2 linked regions of the Homo sapiens genome follow. The protein of the gene in region 2 purifies or fractionates together with the protein of the main gene of each other region. This does not show direct contact. Each region holds a gene or a part of one and is shown on either strand. Other genes may lie near its edges. The genes, in order: MCAM and FUT2.

Region 1 (3,361 bases), on a different chromosome or scaffold from region 2:
ATTTTGAAATTCTTAGCCTGGGAGTGCTGGAGAGAACCTGATGCTTTCTCCAGAATGAAGAGTCCCAATTTGTATATCAGTGTTAAGAAGAAAACAAAACAAACACATAGGTGAGATTTTCGTGGACTATTTTAAAAATGTGTCATTAATATAAAAAATTTATATTAGCAGTATTTAATCATTCTCACCTGTAAAGAATAAGAAAAACAGAAGGTAAATATTCTTACAGAGAATAGCAGAGCTTTAAGATTCATTTTCATTTTAAGTCCATTTTATTTTGCCAGTGTATTAATGTTTAGAAGTCTGTTTTACTAATGTTATTTATTAATTTTTTTTCATTTCCATACACAGTTAGTTAACTAAAGAGCTTTTTCAAGCACCCATGTCTGTAAAAAAATATTTTTAAATAAAGTTTCTTTTGTTGTAGCAGACTTGAGTTCTTGCTCATTCAGGGGGTTGGGAGGCAATACTCGAGTTGCCGTAGGACCAAATGCCAAGGCCCCCTTCCTCATGGCGGTGAGCCTGAGCTGCTGTCTGGAGGGCAGTTCCAAGTGGCAGGAAAGCATAGGAAGGGGACATAGCTCCTGCTAACAGCCTGCCAGGCCCTTCGTGCTGCGTCATCAGGGCAGTTTTGCTGCTGAAAAGTAGGGTGACTGTCTGCTCTGGTAGAACTTGAGCCATTTGCTCAGAAGCAGAGGTAACCCCTGATCTCTGCTGCCAACTGGAAACGGTTTTGTGTGCCTTTTGGTTGTAGTTTCACAGGCCCCCAGGTTCCTGTGGTACCCATGATGAATAAAAAGCAATGTATGATTTCTGGGACAATTAAGCTTTATTTTTCATATATATATATATTTTCATATATATATATACATACATATATAAAGGAAACAATTTGCAAATTTACACACCTGACAAAACCATATATACACACATATGTATGCATACACACAGACAGACACACACACCCGAAGCTCTAGCCAGGCCCGTTTTCCATCCCTAAGTACCATTCTCTCATTTGGGCCCTTCTAGGGTTGGGGCCCTGAGCTTGGTTTGTAGAAGTTTGGTGCTAATATAACCATAGCTTTAATCCCCATGAAGGACAGTGTAGACCTCATCTTTGTCTGCTCCCCGCTGCCTTTCAGTTTTACGTGATCCATCAAGAGGGCTATGGGAGCCAAGTGAACACGGGGGATTGAGGCTAATTCACCTGAACTCGAAAACAGCGCCCAGCTTCCTCACCGCAGGCACGTATCTTTTCTTTTTTTTTCCTCGAGACGGAGTCTCGCTGTGTTGCCCAGGCTGGAGTGCAGTGGCACGGTCTCGGCTCACTGCAAGCTCCACCTCCTGGATTCATACCATTCTCCTGCTTCAGCCTTCCGAGTAGCTGGGACTATAGGTGCCAACCACTACGCCTAGCTAATTTTTTTTTGTATTTTTAGTAGAGACAGGGTTTCACCGTGTTAGCCAGGATGGTCTCGTCCTGACTTTGTGATCCGCCCGCCTCGGCCTCCCAAAGTGCTGGGATTACAGGCGTGAGCCACCACACCTGGCCCCGGCACGTATCTTTTAAGGAATGACACCAGTTCCTGGCTTCTGACCAAAGAAAAAATGTCACAGGAGACTTTGAAGAGGCAGACAGGAGGGTGGTGGCAGCAACACTGCAGCTGCTTCTGGATGCTGCTGGGGTGCTCTCCGGAGCGGGTGTGAACAGCGCACTTCAACATGAGCAGGCGCCTGGCTCCGGTGTGTCCTCACTTCAGTGGTGCACCTGGATGGTGGAAGCCAGCCTTTGGGGCAGGAAACCAGCTCAGAGAGGCTACCCAGCTCAGCTGCTGGCAGGAGCCAGGTATTTACAGCCATAATGTGTGTAAAGAAAAAACACGTTCTGCAAGAAACTCTCCTACCCGCTCGGGAGACTGGGGCTCCTTGCTTGGGATGAGCTTCACTCAACGTGGAGGAGATGGTGGTGGACTGGTCCCTGAAAAGCGGGCCTTGCAGGGCCAAGTGAGGTCCTCAGGTCCTAACCCAGTGGCCCTCTGAAAGGGGGTGTGCAGGCGAGGGGAGCAGGAGGCTTCTCTCTAGTCCCTTTGGAGGCTTTGGCTGAGAGAAGAGTGAGCAGGGAGCTGGGAATGGTCCAGGCAGGGAAGGGAGCTGAAGTGATTCGGGGCTAATGCCTCAGATCGATGTATTTCTCTCCCTAAAAGTGGGTAGAGGAGAAGAGGGGAACACGGAGACGGTGCTGAGTTGAAGGTGTGAGCACCGAGAGGAAGGAGAGATGGAAGCAGAAGCCGATGAATTTGGTGGGCAGCGTTGGGGAGGAAGCTAGGATGGGCATGGCAGGCCAGGGAAGGAGGGCGGCCCCCGTCTGACTGCACTGGTGAAATGGCCACACCCAGAGCCACGGGCATTGGTCAGGAAAAGGTGATGGGACAGGGTCTTTCTCAGTCTTCCTCCAAGCTCCCTCAGCCACTTGCTTGGCCCTGCCATCTGTGAGTAGTGTTAAGAAGGCAAGATGGGGCCTGCTCCCTATCTCTGACAAAGAGGGATGAAGGATAGAGAGAACCGTTAGTCCCTACTGCCCCCGGTCCCTGAGGATGTGGCAGGCTCTGGCCACAGGAACCGCCTCCTACCTGGTCTCCCGGAGCCCTCTTGTCACCGCTGCTGCCCTGCAGGAGGCCCATCTCTTCTGGGAGCTTATCTGACTTAACTTCAACTACAAGTTCGCTCTTACGAGACGGGGGTAGCGTGCTGGGAGGAGGGAGGGAGGTGAGAGGTTGGTATCTCAGGGCCACAGGAAGAGAAGGGCCCGCTGTGAAGGATGTGGAATGGATGAGGGCTCCTTGCTCCAGGGCCAGCCCAGGGCAGGGAAGCAGGTCATGAGACCATGTGGCTGATGGAAGCTGGGCAGTGGGTAGTGGAGCAGGCAGCACCCTGACCCAGGGCCCCACTCCTGCTGTCAAGGGGCAGGCGGGCGCTGGGCAGGCAGCAGGCTGGGTGGCAAAACGGGCGGGGGCGGAGGGGCCGGTGTTGGGCTTACATCTCCTGCTTCCCTGAGCGCCTGCACGGCAGCTTGCCCTTCTTATAGAGGAAATAGAGGACAGCGCCCAGCACCGCCAGGACCAGGATGCACACAATCACAGCCACGATGACCACGCCCCGGCTCTCCGGCTCCGGCAGCTTTCTCTCTGCGCCACAAAGACACTCCTCGTCACTCCCTGCCCCAGGCCACTTCGTCACCATCGTTGGCCCAGCCAGTCCAGGGCCGACAAGATGGGGCTGCTACTCACCTTTCTGGACAGGGCTCTCTGGGGAGGGACAGGGCAGAAAGGATGCCCTGGCACAGCCCTGTTCTCTTGCCAGG
Region 2 (3,910 bases):
TCATTGTCCTTGTCTGTCCATCAACAGGGGGTTGTGGGGAGGGATAAAAACAACACCTCCCCAGAGGTTTCAGTGAGCTGAGATCACACCATTGCACTCCAGCCTGCACAACACAGTGAGACTCCGTCTCAAAAAAAAAAAAAAAAAAAAAAAAGAGCCAGTGCAGTGGCTCATGCCTGTAATCCCAGCACTTTGGTAGGCTGAGGCGGGTGGATCACCTGAGGTCAGGAGTTCGAGACCAGCCTGACTAATATGGTGAAACCCCATTTCTACTAAATACAAAAAATTAGCCAGGCATGGTGGCTCATGACTGTAATCTCAGCTACTTGGGAGGCTGAGGAAGGAGAATCGCTTGAACCTGGGAGGCGGAGGTTGCAGTGAGCCGAGATTGTACCATTGCATGCCAGCCTGGGCAACAAGAGCAAAAATCCATCTCAAAAAGATACAACAACAACAACAAACCACACCTCCCTTAGGGCTGCGTGGGCACAAAGGGAAATGCTGTATTACATGGGCTGTCCCTGGTATTCAGAGCAGAATTTGTGCCCCAAACTCACACTTATGTCAGGCTTGAACCAAGCACCACTCCCATTCTGCCTGAAGGCATTATTTTTTTTGAATTGCTTTTTTTGTAGGGATGGTGGGGAGGGGGTCTTGCTATGTGGCCCACACTGATCTCAAACTCCTGGCCTCAGGAGGTCCTCTGTTCTCCTTCCTCAGCCTCCCAAAGTGCTGGGATTACAGGCATGAGACACCACACCTGGTCTATCTTACTGAGATTTTTTTTTTTTTTTTTTTTTTTGAGACGGAGTTTTGCTCTTGTTCCCCAGGCTGGAGTGCAATGGCACAATCTCGGCTCACCACAACCTCCGCCTCCCGGGTTCAAACGATTCTCCTGCCTCAGCCTCCCGAGTAGCTGGGATTACAGGCATGCACCACCACGCCTGGCTAATTTTGTATTTTTAGTAGAGACGGGGTTTCTCCATGTTGGCCAGACTGGTCTCGAACTCCTGACCTCAAGTGATCCGCCTGTCTCGGCCTCCCAAAGTGCTGGGATTACAGGCGTCAGCCACCACGTCCAGCCCCGTCCACGTCTTTCTATTGCGGCCCGGCTTCCTCCTCTCCCCTCTGTCCCCTACACCCAGCGCCGGCCCTGCCCCTTCCCAGCTCGCAGCCCCTTCAGGGCTCCCTATGCCTCTTAAGACACAATCCCAGTCTCTCGCCGGCCCCGCACACCCCTCCGGCTTTGTCACCAGCTGTTCCCGTGAAATAACCCAGCTCTCCGCTCACCCGGGGCCCCGTCCTGTCCCCCAGCTCTGAAAGCCTTTCTCTACCCCAACCGCCCCGTGCCCCGGGCAGCTCAGCACATCCGGCTCAGTCGCACCCCACTGCCTCGAGCTCGCTGTCTTCCTGCACCTCCCCGGGATTCCCGGATTCCCGGCATTATCACTTCCACCCTGGGGAGGAGAAGGGAGCTTCAGACAATAACGTAGGGCCATCACTTGGAAACCCCACCTTTATTCTCCGACCCAGAACAGAAGCGGTGATTCAGAGCGGGATTAGGGAGTGCAGGAGGGACGGAGCCGCCCTCCCTGGGCGACGGCAGGGCTCGGAGGTGAGACCAGCAGTTTGGGTTCCATGAAGCCTCTGAGGAGCCCCAGGGTGGAGGCAGGAAAGTCGGGTCACCACCAGCTGTGCGCGAGCCATCTGCACCATTACTGCCAGGGTGGTTCATAGAAACTGCTGAGGGGAAGGAGACAAGGAAGGACCTGGTGGCCCGGGGTGGAGAAGGGGAGGGAGCTGGTGGTTGGAGCTCTAGAAACAGATCCACCTGGAAGGAAGTGGGGAGGGAGCTAAGGAGGGCGGCTGGCTGGGGAGGGGGGTCCTGGCTGCCGAGGGAGGGACCCTCCTCTCCTGGAGGTCCTGAGTTGGGGGTGCCTCCCAGAGGGCACCAGGGACCCACGAGGGCACACAGGTCCACGTCCCAAATCCCTGCTCTCCGCCTGGGCGTGTGTGCAGAGGTGTGCGTGTTGTAGGGTGGGAGAGGAGCCCCCTCACCTTCTCTCACCTGGTCCTGCTGAAGGAAACCGGGACAGAGTGGTTGGGCAGGCACCTCAGTGTTCCCTCTGGGTCTCTCTTCACTCAGGGCCAAAGAAACCCTTCCAGCATCGGTGACTGGCAAACCCCGCCCAGGAGCTACAGGGCTTTCCAGAGCAGGTGTGGCTGGGCTGCGGGAGGGAGGTGAGCCCGTAGCCCCTCCTCCCTCCCCATTGCCGGCCACAAAGTCCATCTTGTTATCTACCCTTAGCTCCTCCACCTGCACCAGGCACCCCAAGCCTGGCCATAAGGGTGGGGGAGAGAGGCAGGACAAGGTCGCATCCCCCATCCGGGTCCCCGAGGGTCTTCCTTGGGGAACTGTTGTGATGCCCCAACAGAAAGGGGCCCCCACTCTGCTCCGCTCCTCCAGGCAGCCAGGAAGGCCTCCAGGAAGGCAGCATGGAGGCGGGGGACAGAGTCCTGCTAGGCCAGGCTCTCGCTGACTCTGAGTCCCCTCAGAGTCTTATATTTATTTATTAATTAATTATTAGTAGTATTACTTTTTGAGAGAGTTTTGCTCTTGTTGCCCAGGCTGGAGTGCAATGGCGTGATCTCAGCTCACTGCAACCGCCGCCTCACAAGTTCAAGGGATTCTCCTGCCTCAGCTTCCCAAAGTGCTGGGATTACAGACGTGAGCCACCTCGCCCTGCCTATTTCAAAAAAATTTTTAAATACAAATGGGCCCGGTGTGGTGACTCACACCTGTAATTCTAGCACTTTGGGAGGCCGAGGCAGGCGGATCAACTGAGGTCAGGAGTCAGAGACCAGCCTGGCCAACAAGGTGAAACCCCGTCCTTATAAGAATACAGAAATTAGCCATGGCCCAGCACAGTGGCTCATGCCTGTAATCCCAGCACTTTGGGAGGCCGAGGCAGGTGGATCACCTGAGGTCAGGAGTTTGAGACCAGTCTGGCCAACATGGTGAAACCCTGTCTCTACTAAAAATGCAAAAATCAGTGGGGCGTGGTGGCATGCACCTGTAATCCCAGCTACTTGGGAGGCTGAGGCAGGAGAATCGCTTGAACTTGGGAGGCGGAGGTTGCAGTAAACTGAGATTACACCATTGCACTCCAGCCTGGGAAACAAGAGCAAAACTCTGTCTCAAAAAAAAAAAAGATGGATGAGGAATTTTACTGAGAGAAGAGGCAGGCACCACCAGAGCTCCCAGCAGTCCTAACAGGAGGAAAGAGAAACCAGCAGCCACTCCCCAGCTTCAGCTAAGCAGCAGGAGGCTACCTACCAGCTACGGAGCTCCCTTCAAACAAACAAACAAAAAAATCAGATCAAGCTTCCCACTCTAACCACCAGTTTGCAGAAAACAGGAGGACAAAGTTCCCAGTGAAACGACACCATGAGGCAGCAATCAGCCCAGTCCAGAATGTGAGCCCGTCCACAGGACAAACGACCTGTTTCCCTGTGATTCAGCGACAAGGAAAAAAGAAACAGGGTGGGGCGGGGAAGTGGGGAGGTGAGCTGTCATAAAATATGCAAAACAGGCCAGGTGTGGTGGCTCACGCCTGTAATCCCAGCACTTTGGGAGGCTGAGTCGGGCGGATCACGAGGTCAGGAGATTGAGACCATCCTGGCTAATACAGTGAAACCCCGTCTCTACTAAAAATATATATAAAAAAAAAATTAGCCGGGCGTGGTGGTGGGTGCCTGTAGTCCCAGCTACTTGGGAGGCTGAGGCAGGAGAATGGCGTGAACCCCGGGGGCGGAGCTTGCAGTGAGCCGAGGTCACACCACTGCACTCCAGCCTGGGCGACAGAGCAAGACTCCCTCTCAAAAAAAAAAAAAAAAAAAAAACGCAAAA

Evidence for each region.
Region 1: the proteins of FUT2 (region 2) and MCAM purify together in Homo sapiens (co-immunoprecipitation; one study listed by IntAct). This does not show direct contact.

Annotation. Positions count from the first base shown.
Region 1 is NC_000011.10:119,307,719-119,311,079, forward strand, and holds the end of MCAM (cell surface glycoprotein MUC18 precursor), read right to left. Parts: intron 3,186-3,361; coding exon 3,038-3,185; intron 2,749-3,037; coding exon 2,631-2,748; intron 2,198-2,630; coding exon 2,168-2,197; 3' UTR 811-2,167; downstream 1-810. UniProt on the Homo sapiens protein: Plays a role in cell adhesion, and in cohesion of the endothelial monolayer at intercellular junctions in vascular tissue.
Region 2 is NC_000019.10:48,694,238-48,698,147, reverse strand, and holds the start of FUT2 (galactoside alpha-(1,2)-fucosyltransferase 2), read right to left. Parts: upstream 2,178-3,910; 5' UTR 2,059-2,177; intron 1-2,058.